Linked DNA regions of Homo sapiens. The protein of the gene in region 2 interacts with the protein of the main gene of each other region in a pairwise test. Each region holds a gene or a part of one and is shown on either strand. Other genes may lie near its edges.

What was found.
Region 1: the proteins of CCDC33 (region 2) and ABLIM3 interact in a two-hybrid assay, tested with the Homo sapiens proteins (2 studies listed by BioGRID and IntAct).
Region 3: the proteins of CCDC33 (region 2) and ABCF3 interact in a two-hybrid assay, tested with the Homo sapiens proteins (2 studies listed by BioGRID and IntAct).

Annotation. Positions count from the first base shown.
Region 1 is NC_000005.10:149,255,868-149,261,492, reverse strand, and holds the end of ABLIM3 (actin-binding LIM protein 3), read right to left. Parts: intron 3,203-5,625; coding exon 3,089-3,202; 3' UTR 1,948-3,088; coding exon of another isoform or gene 1,918-1,947; 3' UTR 951-1,917; downstream 1-950. UniProt on the Homo sapiens protein: May act as scaffold protein. May stimulate ABRA activity and ABRA-dependent SRF transcriptional activity.
Region 2 is NC_000015.10:74,238,558-74,246,632, reverse strand, and holds part of CCDC33 (coiled-coil domain-containing protein 33), read right to left. Parts: intron 2,649-8,075; coding exon 2,485-2,648; intron 1-2,484.
Region 3 is NC_000003.12:184,188,124-184,194,505, reverse strand, and holds the end of ABCF3 (ATP-binding cassette sub-family F member 3), read right to left. Parts: intron 6,366-6,382; coding exon 6,099-6,365; intron 5,843-6,098; coding exon of another isoform or gene 5,836-5,842; intron 5,746-5,835; coding exon 5,665-5,745; intron 5,578-5,664; coding exon 5,518-5,577; intron 5,419-5,517; coding exon 5,362-5,418; intron 5,252-5,361; coding exon 5,229-5,251; intron 5,119-5,228; coding exon 5,063-5,118; intron 4,950-5,062; coding exon 4,749-4,949; intron 4,652-4,748; coding exon 4,575-4,651; intron 3,508-4,574; coding exon 3,463-3,507; intron 3,384-3,462; coding exon 3,251-3,383; intron 1,906-3,250; coding exon 1,817-1,905; intron 1,702-1,816; coding exon 1,610-1,701; intron 1,405-1,609; coding exon 1,272-1,404; intron 1,142-1,271; coding exon 1,054-1,141; intron 967-1,053; coding exon 808-966; 3' UTR 501-807; downstream 1-500.

The DNA.
Region 1 (5,625 bases), on a different chromosome or scaffold from region 2:
GATGTGCTCTTTAACGGCACAGCAGTTGTGGCAGAGGCGCTGTGATTTCGTCACCCAGAGGCCATCCTTTTCTGCCCTGCTTCCTTCTTCTTTGTTAGTAGAGGGCCTGGTTCCCCCTGTTGAGGCTGAAAATGCCAAATGCCCAGTTTCCCAGCCTTTACTGCAGCAGGATCATGGACATATCCCTAGTTCTGGCCGGTGGGATCCAAGCAGAAGTCTACTGAGGACTTTGGAAAAGTTTTTCTGACTACAATAGACATGCAATAGACTGTCTTGTTTTTTGATGTGATTGTGTGAGGACATGGTGCCTGGAGCCACAGAAGCCTCTTGTAAACATAGAGGACACATGGCTGAGGACAAGAGCCAACATGCTGAGGATGGTGGGGTACAGAGATACAAACAACCTGGGCTCTGGACTCCATCCCTGAGCTGCTGAATGTACTAACTCTGCACCTTGGATTTCTGGTCATGCAAGACAACACATGTTCTCACTGTTGAAGCCACTTGTAATAAGATGCTCTCTTTACCTGCAGCTGGAAGGATCTTGCCTAATAAGAGTGGTAAGCTGGTCTCTCTGAGTCAGACAGGCTAGAATTCACTCCTGGCTCTACCAGCAGTAATTATGGTTCTCTTCAAAGCTATTTACTCATTTAGGAGATGGAGATGTTAATAACGGCTACCTCTTGGGTTGTTTCAGAAGCTTAAATGAGATGATGGGTGTGAAGTGCTCACATAGAACTTGGAACATTGCTGGTGCTTAGTAATAAGGAACTATTATTATTATTATTATTATTATTATTATTATTATTTTTGATCACAGAAGTTCTTTGTTGTTGGAACATCCTTTACCATCTTGAGGGATCCTGCATTCTACAGAAAAGAATCTAAGTGATGTTTACCTTTACCAAACTTTCTCATTTTACAGAAGGAGAAACTGAGGCCAAAGGAGTGGCTGCTGTTTTGGTGCTTTCATTTTGAAAAATGTGCAGGGTTCAGCCTCTTCCCATGTCAGTCATTTCCACTCCCACACAAGAAACAACAGAAGCACACAGGTTTAGGGTTGAAATGATGTGCTTTTATGGGAAACAAAAATATCCAACAACAATAACAAAAGCCCTTCAATCTCGCCAAGTTCTTAACCAGTGACAATAAGGCAACTTCCATGATTGCGTCTGGCTGGGGATGATTCTAAAGGGTCAGGAAAGTGAAAAGACATTGGCCAAAAAGAGAAGTTGCAGGGAGGGCTGACATCCTACATGAGAACACAGCAGACTTCCCTCTGGCCCCTCACCCCATCACCCCTTCAATTTAGAATCTCCCCCCAATCTACAAAGATCCTTCCTGAATTTCCTCAGATGCAATCTCTTCCAGAAAGCTTTCCTGGGTCTGCTCTAGCTGCATATGACTTTTCATTAACATCACGCACACTTTCTCATTCCTTCTCCGATCACTTTCTGCCTTACATCCGTTATGTTTGGGTACATGCCTTACGATACCCGCTATTGGTAGGCATATCCCTGAGACCGAGTCCCAGGTTGACTCACCCCGTGCTCCCCTCCCCCTCCCCCATTCAGTGCTCAGTATTCAGCAGGTGCTCAACATCAGAGGTGCTCAGTGAGGGTTTGTTCAATTTAAGTCAGTTCTACATTTGCCATGTCACATCGCCAGCCTCTTGAGAGTCATTATTGTCATTTTCACTTCTTCATCCTTCCTCCATGATCTCAAAATGGTCCGACTCAAGGCTTCTCCAAGAAGGAACAGCCCCCACCAAACATTACCCATTCAAGGTGAAAGGTTTGGAGAGGAGAAGAGAGGTTAAGCTTTCTCCCCTGTTCAGGGAGGCGAGCAGGAAGGGAAGCCACTGGGAAAATCCAGGATGGCCATGAGCGGTGTTGGCCAACACTTCATTTTGGAATCTCATAAGCAGCCACTCTTCCAAAAGTTTCCCTGTGAAACATGGCCAACTTTGCAGCAGGAGCCGAGGACTGGCGGGGGTATGGTATGGTTGCCCTGCCAGCCCACAGACCAGAGGCATAGACCAAGAACCTTTCTTTGAGACACGGCCTATTTTCTCTCTGGAGGATGATGAGAGTTGTCTGTCTGGTTGTTCAGTTGGAGCTCTGGTGGGAACATTAGCCCTGCGGTGTGTTGAGTTGTCAGGCACATAGATTGTAATAAGGCTAAAGAATACAAGCTGCAATCATGGGCTTCTCCTTGAAAGAGGGAAGGGTCAGGAGGTGCTGGGAGCAGTGAGGGAGAGAGGAGGGTCCCAAGAAATCCTGCAGCTCTGATTCTAACAGGTGCCCTGCTCCATCTCCCACTTCCGCTCCCTCTCTTTTCCTCTGGTTCTCCAAGTCCAGGTCAGGCAAAGGGGCCAGTTGGAAGTGGTGGAGGGAAGGGAAGGGCCTTTTCCTTTTCCTACCAGGAATCCTAGATTTGGACAAGGGAGAGGTTACAATCCAGGGCAGAAGGAGGAGGGTTAAGGAGCTGAGGAGAGGCCTAGGCCCTGTCCACTTCTGTTGACTGGTGTAATGACTAGATTTGAGGCTCACCCTTTTAACTGCATTGCCCCAAGAGAGCACTGAGCTCCTAATTGGGGGTGTTGAGAAAGTTCTTCGTGGGCGCTCAAAGGTGCTCACTGATTTGGGGAGACTGCTGCAGATCTTCCCATGGGAGGGCCCCTCTGGGGCCAATAAGGTGTGGAAACCACATGGTCAGCATCAGCCCTAGAAATTTAAGAAAGGGGCCACGAAGCAGAGAGAAGAGAGACTTCTTCAGGCACCTTCTTTAGGAAAGAGAGTTGGACCTTGGGGCACTCAAGTTAGGACAGATGTTTCAGTATAAAAAGGATCCCCAATAAAAGGACAGAGTCCCCTCAAATCCCTTCCCAGATCCCACAGCACTTAGAAAAGAGAAAGTAAGGAGCATAAAAATATCTCGATGACGTGGGCTTGCCTGACAGTACAGAAAAGCAAGTCTCATGGCAGGCAGTGTGTCCCATTACACAAGAGAGGATTATACCGAGCTTCAGTAGAGAGATTTTACATATATCTTTATATAAATGCATATATATTTATAGAGCCTCTGCCTAGAACAGCCGGGCTTGCTTCTTCAGTTCATTCCTCTTCCAGAGGGCCAGCCGGTCAAACTCAGAGATGGTCATGCCAAAGACTTGGTAGAACTCTTCCTGGGACAGGTGGCGCTGAAGGAGGCAGGGCAGGCGGGGGTGGGGGGACAGAGAAAGAGAGCAGCATGAGGATGCAAGATGCAGGGGTAGCTGGAGGCAGCAGTGGGTGCTGCATGTTCCCTCTGGGCACCCTGTGCCTTGCATGGTGCCTGAGCCTGGGGAATGTGTGATGAATATTTGTTGAATGAGTGAATATGGAATGAACATTTTCCCAGGGAGGACTCTGGAGCTGATTTGGCTGAAGAGGCCTCCCCTGCCTATGACTCAAGTGGGACTTCCGCTTCCACTACACACCCCTTGGAGTCCCCTGTTGACCCCTCCGCTTTCTGCATGCCTGATCCATGTATTTGCATCCAGAAGTGTGTGTGGATTCATGTTATCCCACTCCCCGTTGAGAGAAAAAGGAGCCATGTCCAAGATTTTAGGGGATATTTCCTCTTACTGATGTTTTAACAAATGATCTGGAAGGCTGTTCATCAGGCCAGTCAATGAAAAAAATTTCTGCTCTTAATTTTTGATTCACCAAAATGTCCTTTTATCTTTTTCTGATATGAAAACAAATATGCTTTATAATCAAACCCTTGTCTGCATTCTATAGTGGATTTTCCCCTCTTTCTGCCCTCCTTCCCTTCCTCCCTTCTAAGCAGCTTTAAAAGTGTGATACATTGTCAAAAGCTTTTAGAGTTAGAAATATACAGCACTTAAAATGTGGCAAAATGTTAACAATTGTTGTATTTAGTGAATGGTAGATGGATGTTCATTTTACTATTCTTGAAACTTTCCTGGATAGCTACAGTTTTTCAAAATGAAATTTAAAATTAAGTTTACAAAGAGAAATATATGGCATATATACTGCTTACAAACTTAATGGATTCACTTGAGCTGGCTTGTTGGTAGCAATTACATGAGCTAATTGGGTGCTGAAGGAGATTCAGTGAAAATTATTTATGTGACCACAGTCAGTTCTCTGGCTTGTTGTCACTGTGAACTATTTTTTTTTTTTTTTGAGACAGAGTTTTGCTTTGTCACCCAGGCTGCAGTGCATGATCTCAACTCACTGCAAACTCCACCACCCCAGTTCAAGTGATTCTCCTGCCTCAGCCTTCCAAGTAGCTGGGACTACAGGTGCACACAATCACGTTGGGCTAATTTTTTTGTATTTTAGTAGAGATGGGGTTTCACCATGTTCCCTAGGCTGGTCTTGAACTCCTGAGCTCAGGCAATCTGCCCTCCTCAGCCTCTCAAAGTGCTGGGATTACAGGCGTAAGCCACGGCGCATGGCCATGTGAACTAACATTTTCCCCATACCTTCAGAATTTCAAACAAAGGTAATATTGATAATTTTTGGTCAATAATTTTTGAAGTAGTAGAGCTGGGACCGAAGTCCAGGCAAAATGCATTACATTCTCACTGCCCCTCTTGGTCAACCCCATTAAAAAAATTCATAAGTAAGTCTATTATGAAAAATGTCAAAACTACACAAAAGAGAGAAAATAGGACAAAGCCCATGTCCACTATCCAGATCCTGTAATTGTGAGGTTTTCCACATTTGCTTCATTTACCTATTTTATTTTCTGAAATATTTTAAAGCAAAGCCTAGACATTGTGTCAGTTCATTCCTATGCACTTCAGAATGTTTCTCAAAACACACTGAATATTTTCTCACATTGTGGTTACACAATGCCATGAGTAAACTCAAGAAAATCTAACAGGAATTCTTCAGAATTCCCTGATACCTGTCCATTACAAAGTTCCTGTCTTGAAAATGTCTTTTCACAGTTGGTTTATCTGAACTAGGACCCAGGCAGTGCCTACACATCACATTTGCTTGTTAGATCCCTAAGACCCTGCCTCTTTCTTTGTACTATTGACTTGTCCATGTTTGTGCTACTCAAGTGAGTGCTGAAAGACACCTTGGATAGGAGAGTCCCCTTCTCTGCTCCTTCCATAGTAAAGACAGAGGGAAACTGCACTTTGGAATCGTTTGTTATTGTTGTTGGAGGGTGGTGGTCTGTATTGGTTCTCCAGTTGAGTTTCTCTATCATGTTAAAAAATCTTTGTTATGAGTCTTGATATAAAAGAATGGTAGACTCACCCTCAAGTAATGTGTTCACAAGCAGGACACACTGGAAGGAGACCAGGGCTTCTCTCCTCTAAGGGCCAGCTGGGGCCTCCTTTCTCCCTCCAGTTCTCAAGGCCCCTAATGCCACTACTGTCCATCTGACATTTGCCACAGAAAGGCGTTAAAGCAGGAAGGTTAACAGTGCAGCTCTTACAGCCAGGGAGAAATGGCCATGTGACCATGGACAAGTTACCTAACCCCTCCTGAACTTCAATTTCCTTTTCTGGAAAATGGGAGCATCCTAGTGTCTCCACCATGAATACCATGAGGGTGAATGAGCAGATACAGGTCATGTGCTCAACACTCAAGGGCACAC
Region 2 (8,075 bases):
GGTGTGAGGTGCTATCTCCTTGTGGCTTTGATTTGCACTTCCCTGATGATTAGCGATGTGCACCTTTTCATGTGCCTGTTGGCCATTTGTATTTCTTTGTTGGAAAAATGTCTATTCGGGTCTTTTTCTCATTTTTTAAATTGGGTTACTTGTCTTTTTGCTATTGAGTTGTATGAGTTACTCATATATTTTGGATATTAACTCCTTATCCGATACATGTTTTGCAAATATTTTCTCCCATACCATAGGCTGCCTTTTTGTTTTGTGGATTATTCCCTTTGCTGCGCAGAAGCTTTTCAGTTTGATGCAGTCTCACTTATTTTTGATTCTGTTGCCTGTACTTCCGGTGTCATATCCGAAGATTAATTGCCAAGACCAATGTAAAGGAGCCTTTCCCCTGTGTTTTCTTCTAGGGGTGTTACAGTTGCAGGTCTTACATTGAAGTCTTCACAAATACATATTTTTAAAAAGCATTGAAATATTCATCATGAACAAAACGAAAACTTTCATGAACTTTCTTATGCCTATTGTGTGCTTTGTTACTTGTTTATTTGTAATCAGATGTGCAGGGATATAAATTCTTTCCAGGTTCTATGGCCTCTGAGGGTCTGGATCCTCCCTCTGGGGTTTCTGCCTGGGGCTGGGGGTGAGCACTGAAAGCCCCCTTCAGGTCCTGACAGCTCGGCCTTCACATTCTCAGAAGCCCTTCCTTCTCCCATCATTTGCATCTCATTAGCACCACCTCGAGCTGGTGGCAGCTTCGCCTGTCTGGAGCCCTGGGACGCAGGCTGCAGCCTGGCCCGGGCGCTGCTCCCAGCTGGAGAAGGGTGCAGCGAAGTGCTTTCCCCTCCCCCCTCCCCGCGTTCTCTGTCCCCACCCTCCCGCCCCACGTGCCGCAGCCACAGGGAGGGTGCAGGAGGACTCGGGGTGTGCCCGGCTCTCCGAACCCCCACCCAGGCTCGTGTCGCCTAGGCTCCTGCCGCGCGTTCCCATGGCAACCGGGTGATGGCGCGGGTCGCGGTGCCTGCCTAGGAGCCACACAGCCACCCAGCTCCCCGCCCCGCCGCCCAGGCCGGATTGGTGACAGTCAGGGCCTCAATCTCCCGAGATGATCGGCGATAATTGGTTTATGGAAATAGCTGAGCGGAGAAGGCGAGCTCCCCGCTAGAAACCAGCCTCCCTGCCAAGCCTGCTCCCACCACCTGTGCTTCCCTCACCACGGAAATGGAGTTGGGGGAGGGATGGCCGAGGAGCTGGGCTGGCACAAATGGGGCTTTTAAGGCAAGTGTTTCACCTGTTGCTCTCGGCACAGCTTCTACCCCCCTTTCACAGTGGGGGCCCTGGGGGGGCAGGGACTTATCATAGTAACCAGGTGTTGGCCTCAGTCACTCCTTGGCTCCTAAGTTTGGGCTCAGGCCTATGTTGGATGCATTGTTGAGGGAAATGGAGGAGGAGATCCGTCCTCAGGGAGCCCCAGAGGAGTGCATAAACCATGTTGATATAAAGTGCTTCAGACCAGGGTCACCACTGCTGTGGAGCTCCAGAAGAGGGAGAGCTCAACTCTGGTGGCTGCCTGGAGGAGGAGGCTTTGAAGGCAGGATTTCAGCAGGCATTGGTGAGTGGGCTGGGGCAGGCACTCCCCAAAAGGAAATGTGGGCAACAGACTCTTGGCAGGAACTGAATGGTGCCAGTATTGGTGGGGGAGGGGAAGTATAGGGTGGCTTGGTGGGAGGCCACCAAGGCTCCCGCCGTCTGTCTATAGAAGGTCTAGGGGTGACATGCTCCTTGGAGGGTGCTTTATAATAAAGATTGAGCAAATATTCAGTGTCCCCAGCGAAGGTTGGCTGGATGGAGATTGTGTTGCCCCTTGGCGCCTTTCTGGAAGAAGTGAGACCCGTGAGGTGGGCATAGACGTGGCGTGGCAGGCCTTGGTGCCAGGCTGGGGAAGTGTGTACCCTGACAGCAGCTGGCTGGAGGGGGTGTGTGGGGTGCATTAAAGGCCCAGAACTAGGGGAGTCCCCATAATAGAAGTGACTGGAGAAGGAGGGGAGGAGGGGAGGGTGGTTATGAGGACCCTACCCCAGGGCTGGGTATGGTGGGGTGGGGCACCCAGAAGTCAGGAGAGGCAGGTCCCAAATCTTCCCCTTCCCCAATCTGACCATCATGCCCATGAGCCCAGCCCAGACTTTTGCATACAAGGAACCTGCCCCACTGGAGCTGAGCTGTGACCAATCCCTGCCCCACTGGTGTGGGGTGGGGAGGGGTGACTCTCTGGATCCGTTGGCACCCTGTCTTCCCCAGCCCTGGTGAGCAGCTTCCCATGCAGCAGCGGAGATGCCAGGTAGTGCCCACAGCAGCTCCTCCCCTCTGGGTATGACAGTCCCAGTCCTGGGCCTTTGGGTGCTAGTATTCCAAATAGCTGTCCCCTGGTTTCTGCTCACAGCCCAACCCATCCCCTGCCCCCACTCTCACGCAGCTACTTACACCACCACATAGGGCCACGGCTCGGAGCCATCCTTGCAGGCAGGCAGGTTGGTAGCCCCATGGAGGGTGACCATGATGGTCTCCTTCTTAGAGGGAGACAGGTGACCGATCTCAGGTTCCGTGCTCTGGGAGGCGATCAGGGGCTCCTCTGGGTCTTCAGTGTTCTGTGGGGAGAGCCAGGGCTGAGTGTTTTTTTTTTTTTTTGAGACAGAGTCTTGCTCTGTTGCCCAGGCTGGAGTGCAGTGGTGCCATCTTGGCTCACTGCAGCCTCTACCTCCCAGGTTCAAGCAATTCTCCTGCCTCAGCCTCCACAGTAGCTGGGATTACAGGCATGTGCCACCACATCCAACTAATTTTTGTATTTTTAGTAGAGACGGGATTTCCCCATGGTCTCAAACTCCTGACCTCAGGTGATCTGCCTGCCTCGGCCTCCCAGAGTGCTGGGATTATAGGCATGAGTTACTGCACCTGGCCCTGAGTGGCCTCCTCTGCTGCGGCACCTCCCTTCACTGCCACCCTCTAGCACTAGCCACTCACAGCTTCCGTCAAGTGCCTGCCTCCCTCTGTCACCCTTCCGCCCACTCTGCAAGGCAGTCGCCTTGGCCCCATTTTCTCCCTACTTCTGTCCCCATCCCACGTCTCTCTCAGTGCCTCTCCTCTAGTCCTGGATCCTACCCTTCCTGCAGGATGAGACAGGCCACCTCACCTTTCAAGTCTGGTCCCACTTCTAAGCCTTAGCTTTCGCAGGTGTCCTCGTCTGTAATTCCTAAATCCCACCTGCTTTTGCAGTCCTAACAATGGGCCACCTTCTTCAGTCTATCTTGTAACCTCACCTCAGCTCACCCATCACCTCAGGTCCCTCCTGTGCACAGCACTTTACAGCTGACAAAGCTTCTCCACGTTCATGGGGGCATTCAGTGCATTACGTGGAGGTGAATGCATGTGTCTGTCCCAGATGCCCCACCTGTCTTCTACCCAGGAAACTTGCGGACTAGGGAGGAAGAGGTGCCTGCCCATGCAGGGGGCTTCCTACACCAGTTGCCCCAAGCAGGGACTCAGCAGCTTAGTAACTTGTGGATTCATGGCCCAAAGGACCATCTTAACGAGAGCTGCTGAGAGAAGACAAAGCCCTGGCCGGCTGAGGCGGTCAGGGAAGACAGCAGGGAGGAGGAGGCCTTAAAGGGTTGGGAGAAGGTGCAGGAGTGGAGTCAGGGAGGACAGGCCAGGAGCAGAACACTGGAGCGAAGGCAGCAAGCGGGAAGGGGCAGAGCTTTCCAAGGCCCAGAGGTGGCTCAGTTTGACTGGGGAGGCAGTGGGGACTCAGAGAAGACGGCAGAGCTGGGCATATAAACGCGGTGGGGTGGGGAGGGGTGTGGCCATGAGGCTGCTGTGGCTCAGGGGTGTCCTTGTCCTCCCTGGCCCTGGTCCTCCACTGGCCGGCTGGCTGACTCACCACTTCCAGTTAATCTGACACAGATTAACCCTTGATAGGCCTCCCGTGGTAGGAGGTCTTGCCTACCCTTTGTCCCTCCAGCTGATATGAGGGGCCATAGAGGGGCACTCCTGGCTCTGGGAGAGGAGCAATGGACCTCCTCAGGGTGGAGGCAGGGCCCTGAGGGGCCACTGGCAGGCTGTTCCTCATCTCTGGAAAGCTCAGCCTGTCAGACCCTGCATTCCAGGGCAGGCCCTGGTTGGGTGGGGTTGAGAACAATGTCCTATTACATAGAGAGGAAATTGAGGCCCAGACAGGAGCAAGGACCTGGGCCCTGGACGGGCTCTGGTTTTGGTGGCAGCCTCGGCAGGCTGGGTCCTTGGCTCAGAATGGCCGGCTCCTGAGGAGCCCTGAGTGTCAGGAGAGGTAGGTTTAAACCAGCTCTGCCTCTCACCATGCTGGGCCCCAAAGCCAGCCATGTTCTGAGAGTCAGTTTCCCCAGTGGGGAGATGAGGACTTGGACCGACCTATCTGGAAGCTGCTCTGCTCCTACCTTGAGCCTTGGCTCCTGGAAGCCTCAGGCAGACAGAAAGAAAAGGGCACAGTGCCTGAGGCTCTGCTCTGCCCCGAGGAGTTTTAGGAACGTTATTTCATCCATTTCTCACGGTAGCGTGGGGTGCCCACCAATCGGAGCCACACACCCCCTCAACAGCTCCCCTTGGGGGTCTACTGGCCTCTCAAAGCTAACGAACTCTGGACTCCCCTTCAAACCCCTCCTCCTGCTGTCTGCCCCAACTCGTTAATGAGTTAATGGCGATGCCATTGTTCTAGTTGTTCAAGCCCCACATCTTGGAGTCCTTCCTGATTCTTCCCTCTCTTCCTCTACATCCCTTATCCAGTTCTTCAGCAGATCCTGTCAGCTCCACCTTCAAACTATATCTGGACTCTGACCCTTCTCAGCATCCTCAGGTCAGCACTCAGGTCCCAGACACCTGTATGTCCCGACTCGCCTCTGATGGAGTTCTGTTTCCTCTCCGACTCTCCGTCCACCCCATCCAATCGCCAGAGTGAGCCTTTACAGATTGGACCCAGACCCTCTCTCTCCTCTGCTCAGAACCCTGAAGTAGCTTGCTGCTTCTCTCAGAGCCTTGCAATGGCCCGTGGGGCCCTCCAGGAGCTGGCCCAGAAAACTGACCTCATCTTGTCCCACGGGCCCTGTGGGTCACTCCGCTCCAGCCACACTGGCCTCCTGGCTGTTTCTCACACCTACCAAGCTCCCTCCTGCCTCCCCGCCTCTGCCCTAGCTGTTTCCTCTGCTCCACCCTGGGTGTCACTCCAGAACTGTCATCCCTGTGCCTTGCTCCCCTACTTCCCTTGGCTTGCCTGGTGCAGGCTGTGGTCCTTGCCTAGCAAGATGGCTAATTAGGAGGTGAGAATACATGCCCCCCAGATCAGAAGTGCCAGTCCTGCAGAGAGGCCCCCCTCTCCTTCCTCTGACTGAGGAGGCCACCCCCACCCTCTTCCAGGACCCAGCAGGGCCTGTCACCATCTACAGAGGTGTTGATGAGGGTTGCCCCTCCTTCTCTCCCCCATGCTCCTGTCAGGGGAGAATGAGGGGAGGGGAAGATGCCCCTGCCTGGAGGTGAAGGAGGAGGAGCAGCCAGAGTGCTGTTCCCTGCCCTCCTGGGTAGGCAGCTTCCTCCCATATCCACCCTCATGCAGGCCACCATGACCCCCCCACTCCCCAGCAGCCTTGCTCTCCTGGTTTAGTGGCACAGGAGTAAGGCTGGCAGCCTCAGGGCAAAAAGACCTAGGTTTCAACTTGGCCGGGTGTGGTGGCTCACGCCTGTAATCCCAGCACTTTGGGAGGCCGAGGCGGGCAAATCACTGGAGGCTGGGAGATCGAGACCAGCCGGGCCAACATGGTGAAACCCCATCTCTACTAAAAATACAAAAATCAGCCAGGTGCGGTGGCATGAGGCTGTAATCCCAGCTATTCGGGAGGCTGAGGCAGAAGAATTGCTTGAACCTAGGAGGCGGAGGTTGCAGTGAGCCAAGATGGTACTCCAGCCTGGGTGATAGAGTGAGACTCCAACAACAACAACAAAAAAAAGACCTAGGTTTCAGCTCAGCTCTGGCCCTACCTCTCTGTACCACCTCCCTGAGCCTTGATTTTCCCACCTGGCCAATGGGAATGTCTGGAATAGTTTGTGATTCAGCCTTTCCAGTGGTTACTGTGCCTGAAGTTCCTGCAGTGAGGCTGGGAGGGGTGATTCATGTTCCTAGATGGATTCACCTTGCTGTGAGGGCACAGGGCCTCTCATGAGCTCCCTAGGGCCATGAAAGGGAGGGCCCAGGAGTAAGACCATTGTCCAGGGGCTCTCATTGGCTCCCTGGCAGCCCCAGAGCCCAACTAGGCATCTGCAGACCTGGCCAGGAGTCACACCGGCTCCTCCTCTATCTCCCCTGCACCTCCCCTCGGGGACAGCCTTCCCTTCTGGGAATAAAGCTTGCAGGAAGTTTGGCGAGAACTATTGTGTTTCAGTTCTGGGCATGAGGCCAACTGCCAGGCTGGCGCCTCCTGGTGAGGCTTGCAGGCATGTGCCCGCTGGGCAGGCTGGGCCCAGGGCCAGGGAGGCTTGGGGCCAAGGGTAAGGCCAGAAGGGGGATGGTGGGCCAGGGCTGCTAACCTCCTGCTATCCCTTTTTTATTCCCATGTCTGGATGGGAATCTGCAGGCTTCCCTCAGAGATGTCCTGCATCAGAACCAATGTCCTCGACCCATCTGTTACCCCTGGCCTGCACTAGAGGATTGATGAGGGAACAGAAAATGCATATACTGGGTTACATGAGTGGTAGGGAACTGGGGGTGATGGGGTACCCCCCCCGTAACTCTCAGTTTGCACAAACTCATCTGTAGGGGTGTGGTGAGCCCTGGGGAGGGAATTCATGCCTCCTCTTGGCTGGGAGCAAAGCTGGATGCTCACCATCAGCTTCTCAGGCTCCCTCTCACTTAACCCACCCAACACTGCTAGGGTGCAGAGATCAGCAGGCAGCTTTTCCAGGCAGGGGTTTGGCCAGTTTACCTGCCCAAGGCCACACAGCCAGTGGATGAGAGGCTGGGCTGTGAGCACCGAAGCAAGCCTGATTCCAAAGCTCAGCACTCTCAGCTACTCCACTGGGCCTGGCAAGATTGGAAGCTGCTAACTCCAGTGCCCTTATCCAAACAGACAGGCAGCCTTGCCCTCAATAGGCCAGGATTAGCCAGCAGATGTTGCAGGGGAACTAGGACTGCCCATCACTTAGGGCATTTTTGGATCCATGTGCTGGGGGGAAGGGCTAGGGTGAGAGGAGGAGGTAGGAACAACAGGGAGTTAATGGTCCTTGAATTCAGCTCCCGCGGGTGGGTTGGGGGGTGCTTAACTTGGTTCTGGTGGGGAGAGAGATGGAAGGAGACAAACTCTTCCACCCACTCCTCCCTATCCTCCAGCAGCCTGGGAGGCCTGAGGAGCTGAGCCCAGTTCTGCCCTCTAGAAGGGCCGTGTGTCTGAAAAGTCACACTAGCTGGAGCGGGGCTGGGCTGGGAGGCAGGGTGCCTGGCTGCCCGGATCTGTCATTTGGGCAAGTTACTTGACTGCAGTGGGGCTATTTCCCAGCAGTTTCACAAGGACTTTCAGTTAAAAATGGTCCCCCATGTTCCTTCTAGTTTCAACATCTAAACTTGCCTGAGAGTTATGGCGGCCAGGGGAAAGCTCTTTCACAGGTGAGGAAGCACACTCAGAGAAAGTAAACCTCTTGTATGAAAGCACACAGCTTAGCTAGTGAGGCCAGGGCTGGAACTGGAAGCTGGGTCTGTCTGACCCCACACTCTTGCTGTCTCTGCTGTGCTCTAACCATGCTTCCTTGGATGTGGATCCCTTCTCTGCTCCACAGTGGATGCCCCCCTGAACTCATAATCTGAGTATCCATTGGTGGCAGCAAGAGGAATTATGTTCTTTGGAGCAGAGAAGCATTCCAAAAGATGACACAAAAGTCAGAAATCATTAAAAAGGGATAGGTTTGATTACATTTTAAAAATCTATACTAACTTCTATAATGGTCCAAAATGCCCTGCAATACAAAGAAAAGAAAAAAAGGAGAAAATGTTTGCTGCATATTTA
Region 3 (6,382 bases), on a different chromosome or scaffold from region 2:
CCCTCCTATATGGTTAGAGGAAATATAAAGAACATGCAATCACCCAAGCAAAGTGAGGACAAAGATGGTTTCTCTTCAGTGCTGAGTCTAGAGAGCAGAGAAGCAGGGCAAGCCGGAGCCAGATATGACTGGAGAAAGCAGCTGGCCACGTGTGAGGCCAGGTTACACAATCAGTTCAACTGCCCATCAGTGGGGGCTGTGACGACAGAACCCAAGACCCCTTCAGCTGAGGCTGAGCCCAGGCTAGGGCTAACAGCACCGCAATGATGCCAATACACTGCCCTTCATTCCACTGGCTCAGCCCACCCCAAGGTCAGGCAGGCAGATGACCTCCATGCCCCAGTAGCTTGACAATGTCTCTTCTAGAGGCAAGGCTGGTGCTGCTATTGCTTCCTACACGTGAGGGATACAAGTGCCATAGGAAAACGCCAATCCGAGAGTCCACAGCCCTCAGTAGGAGGCAACCACTGCCCAGGGAGCAGCAGACATGAGGCAAAGGAGACGCGGGGAGAGATTTAATTTACATAGCAGCCACTTGGGGTCCAGTCAGAGCTGGGGCAGTGGGGGAATCTATAACCCCAGAGGGTACCCCCCAGACCCCCACCCCCGGGAGACCAGTCCTCACCAACCCTTGGATGGGCTCCCAAGGTTGTGCAGAAGATGCTCCAGTCAAAAGGATAGAGACATTTGGGAATAAGGCTGTCCCCAAGTTGGGGGAAGTCCACGGCCTGGAGTGGTGGCCTACATGGTGGCCCAGGGGTCTGAGAGACCAGTCCATGTCCTGGGCGAGTCCTCAGCCTGGTGGCCCTAGAGGAAGCCTTCGCGGCGGAACTGTTCCTGGAGGAGGGCGCGGTACTGGTCAAATCCTCCTTCCACACGGGTGACGCCGCCTCCTTCGCATACCCACAACTCCCGGCACACCAGCCTGATAAAGCGCTCATCGTGGGACACCAGAATCACACCACCCTGAAAGACAGGAGGGCAGGAGGTGCTCAGGGGGACACAAGAGGCACCGAGGCCTGGGAGGAGTGGTCAGGGTGAAGGCACACTCACCCTGAAATTGTTGAGGGCACGGCCCAGAGCCTCAATGGTCTCCATGTCCAGGTGGTTTGTGGGTTCATCCAGAATGTAGAAGTTGGGGCTGGAAGGCAGAACCAGGAAGGTGGGCAGTGAAGGGGTGCGGTGAGAGAAAATAAAGCCTTCTGATACAGTTTTCTACTGGGCAAGAAGGGGAAATGGGAGGGGAAGAGCTCTGGAAAATGAGGCCTCACCAGGGCATAGTCATCTGAGCAAAGGCCACTCGGCTCTTCTGGCCCCCAGACAGGCTGGCAAGAGGACGCATGGCCAGTTCTCCGGAGATGCCATACCGACCCAGCTGGTGACGGTACTCCTCCTCAGGCCGCCCTGGAAAAGGACTCCCCAGATCAGGTGGCTTCTTGGCCCAACACCCTCCCTGTGCCCTCCAGCCACACCTCCAAGTCCCCATGTCCTTCCATCTAGGCTTGGCGGGGCTGCTCTGCACGCACCCCAAGGCAGGCCTAGCTGCCGGGGTCAGCCTCAGCCCTCTTCCCTACTCAAACTCTTCCCCCGACTCAAATCCCTAACTCACCAGGAAACTTGCGTGCCAGCAGTTCCACAGCACTGACGTTTAGGTCCAGCTGCTCCACATGGTGCTGGCTGAAATAGCCAATCTTCAGATTCCTGCAGGCAGAAGCCGAGGTGGAAAAACAGACAAAGGCAATGGCCACGAAGGAGCGCAGGCAGCATGGGTGCCTGCAAATGTGCTCATGGGGGCAGGGGTGCGGGTGGGCCTGACCTGTGAGCGTGTCTGATGCCCCGAACAGGTGCCAGGTCCCCCAAAAGCAGCTTCAGCATGGTAGACTTCCCAGCCCCATTCTCTCCAACCTTAAGAAACATGAAAATGTCATACAGTGTGTGCCAGAAAAATAAATACGGTATGTTCTCATTCATATGTGGGCACTAAAAAGTGTTGAGCACATAGAAGTAGAGAGCAGAGTTGTGGTTACTAGAGGCTGGGAAGGATAAGGGGGGAGGAGGGGAATTGAGAGAGGGGTTCGGGAGAGGTTGGTTAACTGAAACAAAATTGCAGTTAGATAGGAGGAATGGAGGAATAAGTTCTAGGGTTCTACAGCACTGCAGGGACGCTACAGTTCACAATGATAGACTGTACATTTTCAAAAAGCTAGAAGATTCTGAATGTTCCCAACATAAAGTGATAAATGTTTATGATGAATATGCTAATTACCCTGATTTGATCATTACACATTGTATACATGCATGGAAGTATCACTCTGTACCCCATAAATATGTACAATTATGTATCAATAAAAAGAGCACCGCTGTGTGTAACACAGAGGAGAAGGAAATTAGAAGGGGTCCCAGGCAGTCCCCAGTCCCGATGACTCCTTCAACAACCAAAAAAATATTTTTAAGGACTCTAGCCGGGCACGGTGGCTCAGGCCTGTATTCCCAGCACTTTGGGAGGCTGAGGCAGGCAGATCATTTGAGGTCAGGAGTTTGAGACCAGCCTGGCCAATATGGTAAAACCCCATCTCTACTAAAAATGCAAAAAATTAGCTGGGCATGGTGGCGGGTGCCTGTAATCTCAGCTACTTGTGGGGCTGAGGGAGAACTGTTTGAACCCGGGAGGCGAAAGCTGCGGTGAGCCAAGATTGTGCCATTGCACTCCAGCCGGGGCAACAGGGCAGGACTCTGTCTCCGAAAAAAAAAAAAAAGGAACTCTAACTCTACAGAAAAATGCATATACTAAGGTGAGCAATACTTGAGTATTTGCTAAGTGCTGGGGACTTACTTTTCCCAAGAACCAAGTGAGGTAGATGTCAGCGCCATCTTAAGAGTTAGGAAGCTGCTTGGTAACCAAGCTAGGAAATGGCATAGTCAAGATCCGAAGTCTGACCCTGAAGCCCATGCTCTCTCCTCAATGTCTCCAGGTTTAGAAAACTCAGAACCGAGACCAATAAGGTAAAGCACTGCTTTAAGTATTTTTAAGTATTTTTAAAACACTATACACTAGGCTCTTCCTCCCTGAAGAGCAGCGCTGTGCGGCCAGAGGACAGGGCTAGTGTAAGTCCTGCAAAATCCTTAGCCCGGGCCCTCACTCCTGTTCCACAGACCTCGTCCCTTTACAGCCTGAGGATCTGGGCCAATCCACACCACACACTTAGACAGGAGAGTCCCAGCTCGCAGCACAGAGAAACAGCAGCCTTACCACACAGATGCGAGACTCGAGATCAGCAGACACAGAGAGGCGACTGAAGATGACGTGCTTCGGATCGTAGTAGAAATCCACCTCATCTAGCTGCAGAATTGGCGGCGAGAACTTCTCAAACCCATCAGGGAACCTGCAGGAGGTAGGGGTGAGGATGTGGGGGCAGCTGGAAGCAAGCAATTCCCCACCAGCCCCACTGGCCCAGCACTTACTTCATTACGACCTCTGATTCCTTGTCCACAGGCTTCAGCTCAGGCCTGGGAGAAGAGATGAGGTAGACTAGATTTATTACTTAAAAAAATAACTTCCTACACGAGTAATATATGTTCAGAGAAAACTTAGAAAGGGCTTGTACTCCTACCACTCAGGTATCATTACTTTAGAGTCCATTCTTCTCATTTACTGTATGCTAAAAAATAGAATTAGGCTTTTTGTGACTTTTTATCCCCAGTTACTATATTGTGATATGTTTCCACGTCGCAAACATCTAAGCTTTATGATTTTAAGCTTCCTGCCAGCACTTATAGAAAGGGCACTTCAAAATTAAACTCCCAATGCACATTATCATTAGTTATTAAGGCAATGCAAATCAAAACCACAATGAGCTATCACTTCACAGCCACTAGGATGGCTAAAACTAAAAAAAAAAAAGTCAATAACAGTGCTGCCAAAGACATGGAGAAATTGGAACTCTCATCCCTTGTTGGTAGGAATGTAAAATGATGTTGTTGCTTTAGAAAACAGTTTGACAGTTCCTCAAAACATTAATTTGGAATTACCAGGTAACCCAGCAATTCTGCGCCTAGGTATACACCCAAGCAAGCTGAAAACATATGTCCACACAAAAATTTGTACACCAATGTTCACAGCAACATTATTCATAATAACCAAAATGGAAACAACCCAAATGGCCCCTCATGACTCAATAAACAAAATGCTGTATATCCACACAACAGAATATTATCCAGCCACGAAAAGAAATGAAGCTCTGACGCACGCTACAATATGGATGAGCCTCACACATGACGCCAGGTAAAAGACACCAGGCACAAAGGTCATATTGTATGATTCCATTTATATGAAATGCCCAGAATAAGCAGATACGTAGAAGCAGAAACAGAAAGTAAATTAGTGGTTGCCATGTGCTAGTCAAGATTAGCCCTCCAAGAACAGTGTGGAATACTCTGCTTCCCAGCAGAGGAGGAAGTCACAGTTGGCTTCTAGCGAAGGGGAGACCTAGAATGGTAGGGCAAGGGTGGCGTGCAAATGCGGAAGGAGACGAAGAGAACAGGAGTCAGGCCCTGGCCAAGGATGCTGTACTCACAGCTTCTCCAGCATCTTGAGTTTACTCTGCACTTGAGAGGCCCTGTTGGCATTGTAGCGAAACCGGTCAATGAAAACCTGCAGGTGGAGGAGTGTAGGCATTGGTCAAATTCCCCCACTATCCCCCACTCTGGAACCCCTGGGATGGGACCCCCAGCCCTGCCAGGCCCCACACCTGGATGTGCTGGCGATACTGCTGCTGCGCCTCATATTCACGCTGCTGGTTGAGCAGCCGCTCCTGCTTACTCTTGATGAAGGTCTCAAAGTCTCCCCGGTAACCATCTAGCCGCTGGCTGTGCAGGTGGATGATGTCTGTGGCGATGGCATTCAAGAAGTTGCGGTCGTGGGAGACGACTAGGATGGTGGAGGGCCACGTCTGAGGGGTCACAGGACAGCAGGCCCGGTTTGGGAGGGCAGTCAGTTCTCAGGCCCCCAGGTATCTTGGAGGCCGCCTTTCCCCAACACACTCCAGCACCCACAGGCACTCACCTGCAGGTAATTCTCCAGCCACAGGATGGCCCTGACATCCAGCATGTTTGTAGGTTCTGGAGAAGCAGGGGAGCACACACTTGGGATTGAAGGGCTGGAGAACTAGGAACTTGGATGCTACCACCCCTGCCCATCCTAAAGTCAGGGTGCCCCATTTCAAACTCACCATCTAACAGCAGAAGATCTGGCCTATGAAAAACAATACATGGCCTGAGGTTTTAGGTCAGCAACTCATGCCACCTCCCAAGAGCTAAGACCAATCTTCCATAGGGCTTCATACACTGGCCCAGGAGACTCACCTAGCAAAGAGGGCCCGGGCCAGGGCCAGCCTCATCCTCCAGCCACCTGAGAACTCCCTAAAGAATGATGGAGTCACATTATGGGTGGGTGTTCATCAGGGCAGGAAGGGGCTGAGACAACAGGGTTCAAAGCCAAGAATGGCAAGGGTCACTCACCGGGTGGGCTGCTGCTGCATTTTAGGGGTAAAGCCAAGCCCAGCGAGAATGACTGATGCCCTAGTAGAGAAGAAATCGAAGAACTCAGTTGGAACAGTCCACAGAAGGGAAAGGAAATCTGAAGGAGGGAGGGGGAGCTTTAAATACCTGGCAGGTGCCTTGTCAGCCTCAATCTCCTCCAGTTTGGCATAGATTTCTGCCAGCTCTGCAGCTTCAGAGCCCTCCGCCCTGGAGGGAGGAGAAACAGCAATTGGCCTAAGCAGGGGCAGTCTAGGAGGATGTCCTGCACCCTATACCGTTGGAAAGGCCATTGGCTACCTTGTGGCTGGAAGAGGAAGAGAATACAGGAAGGGTTTGCACAGTGCTCATTACCTTGGGCACTATGGAAATGGGCACTGTGGAAAGAACAAGAAAGGGCAATGGGCACTGTGGAAAGAACAAGGGCTTCTGAGTCCCAGAGTGCCAAGTTCTAAGCTCTGCTGATTACTAGGATGTACATGCAAATTATGGATTGTTCCAGGACGGCAGGCGCTCTGTAAGCGACAGCGGCTGCTAGTTACTCCCTAGCCGGGAGTCCTCACCTGCCAGCAGCAATCTGGGCAGTGAGCTCCCGCTCCCTCCGTAGCAAATCCTCTCGCACACTGTCACTCTCCAGCACACTCTGCAGGGCAGGAGTGTCATCTCCAGCAACCTCTTGCTCAACGTGCAGCAGGGAAATGTGGGCTGGAACCCGCAGACTCCGGGTGGCCAGCATCTTCAGTAACGTTGTCTTCCCCAACCCATTCCGCCCCACCAGCCCGTAACGGCGGCCCCATGCCAGGTTCACATCCGCTCCAGCCAGCAGTACTCTGCAGGAGTGGAGAAA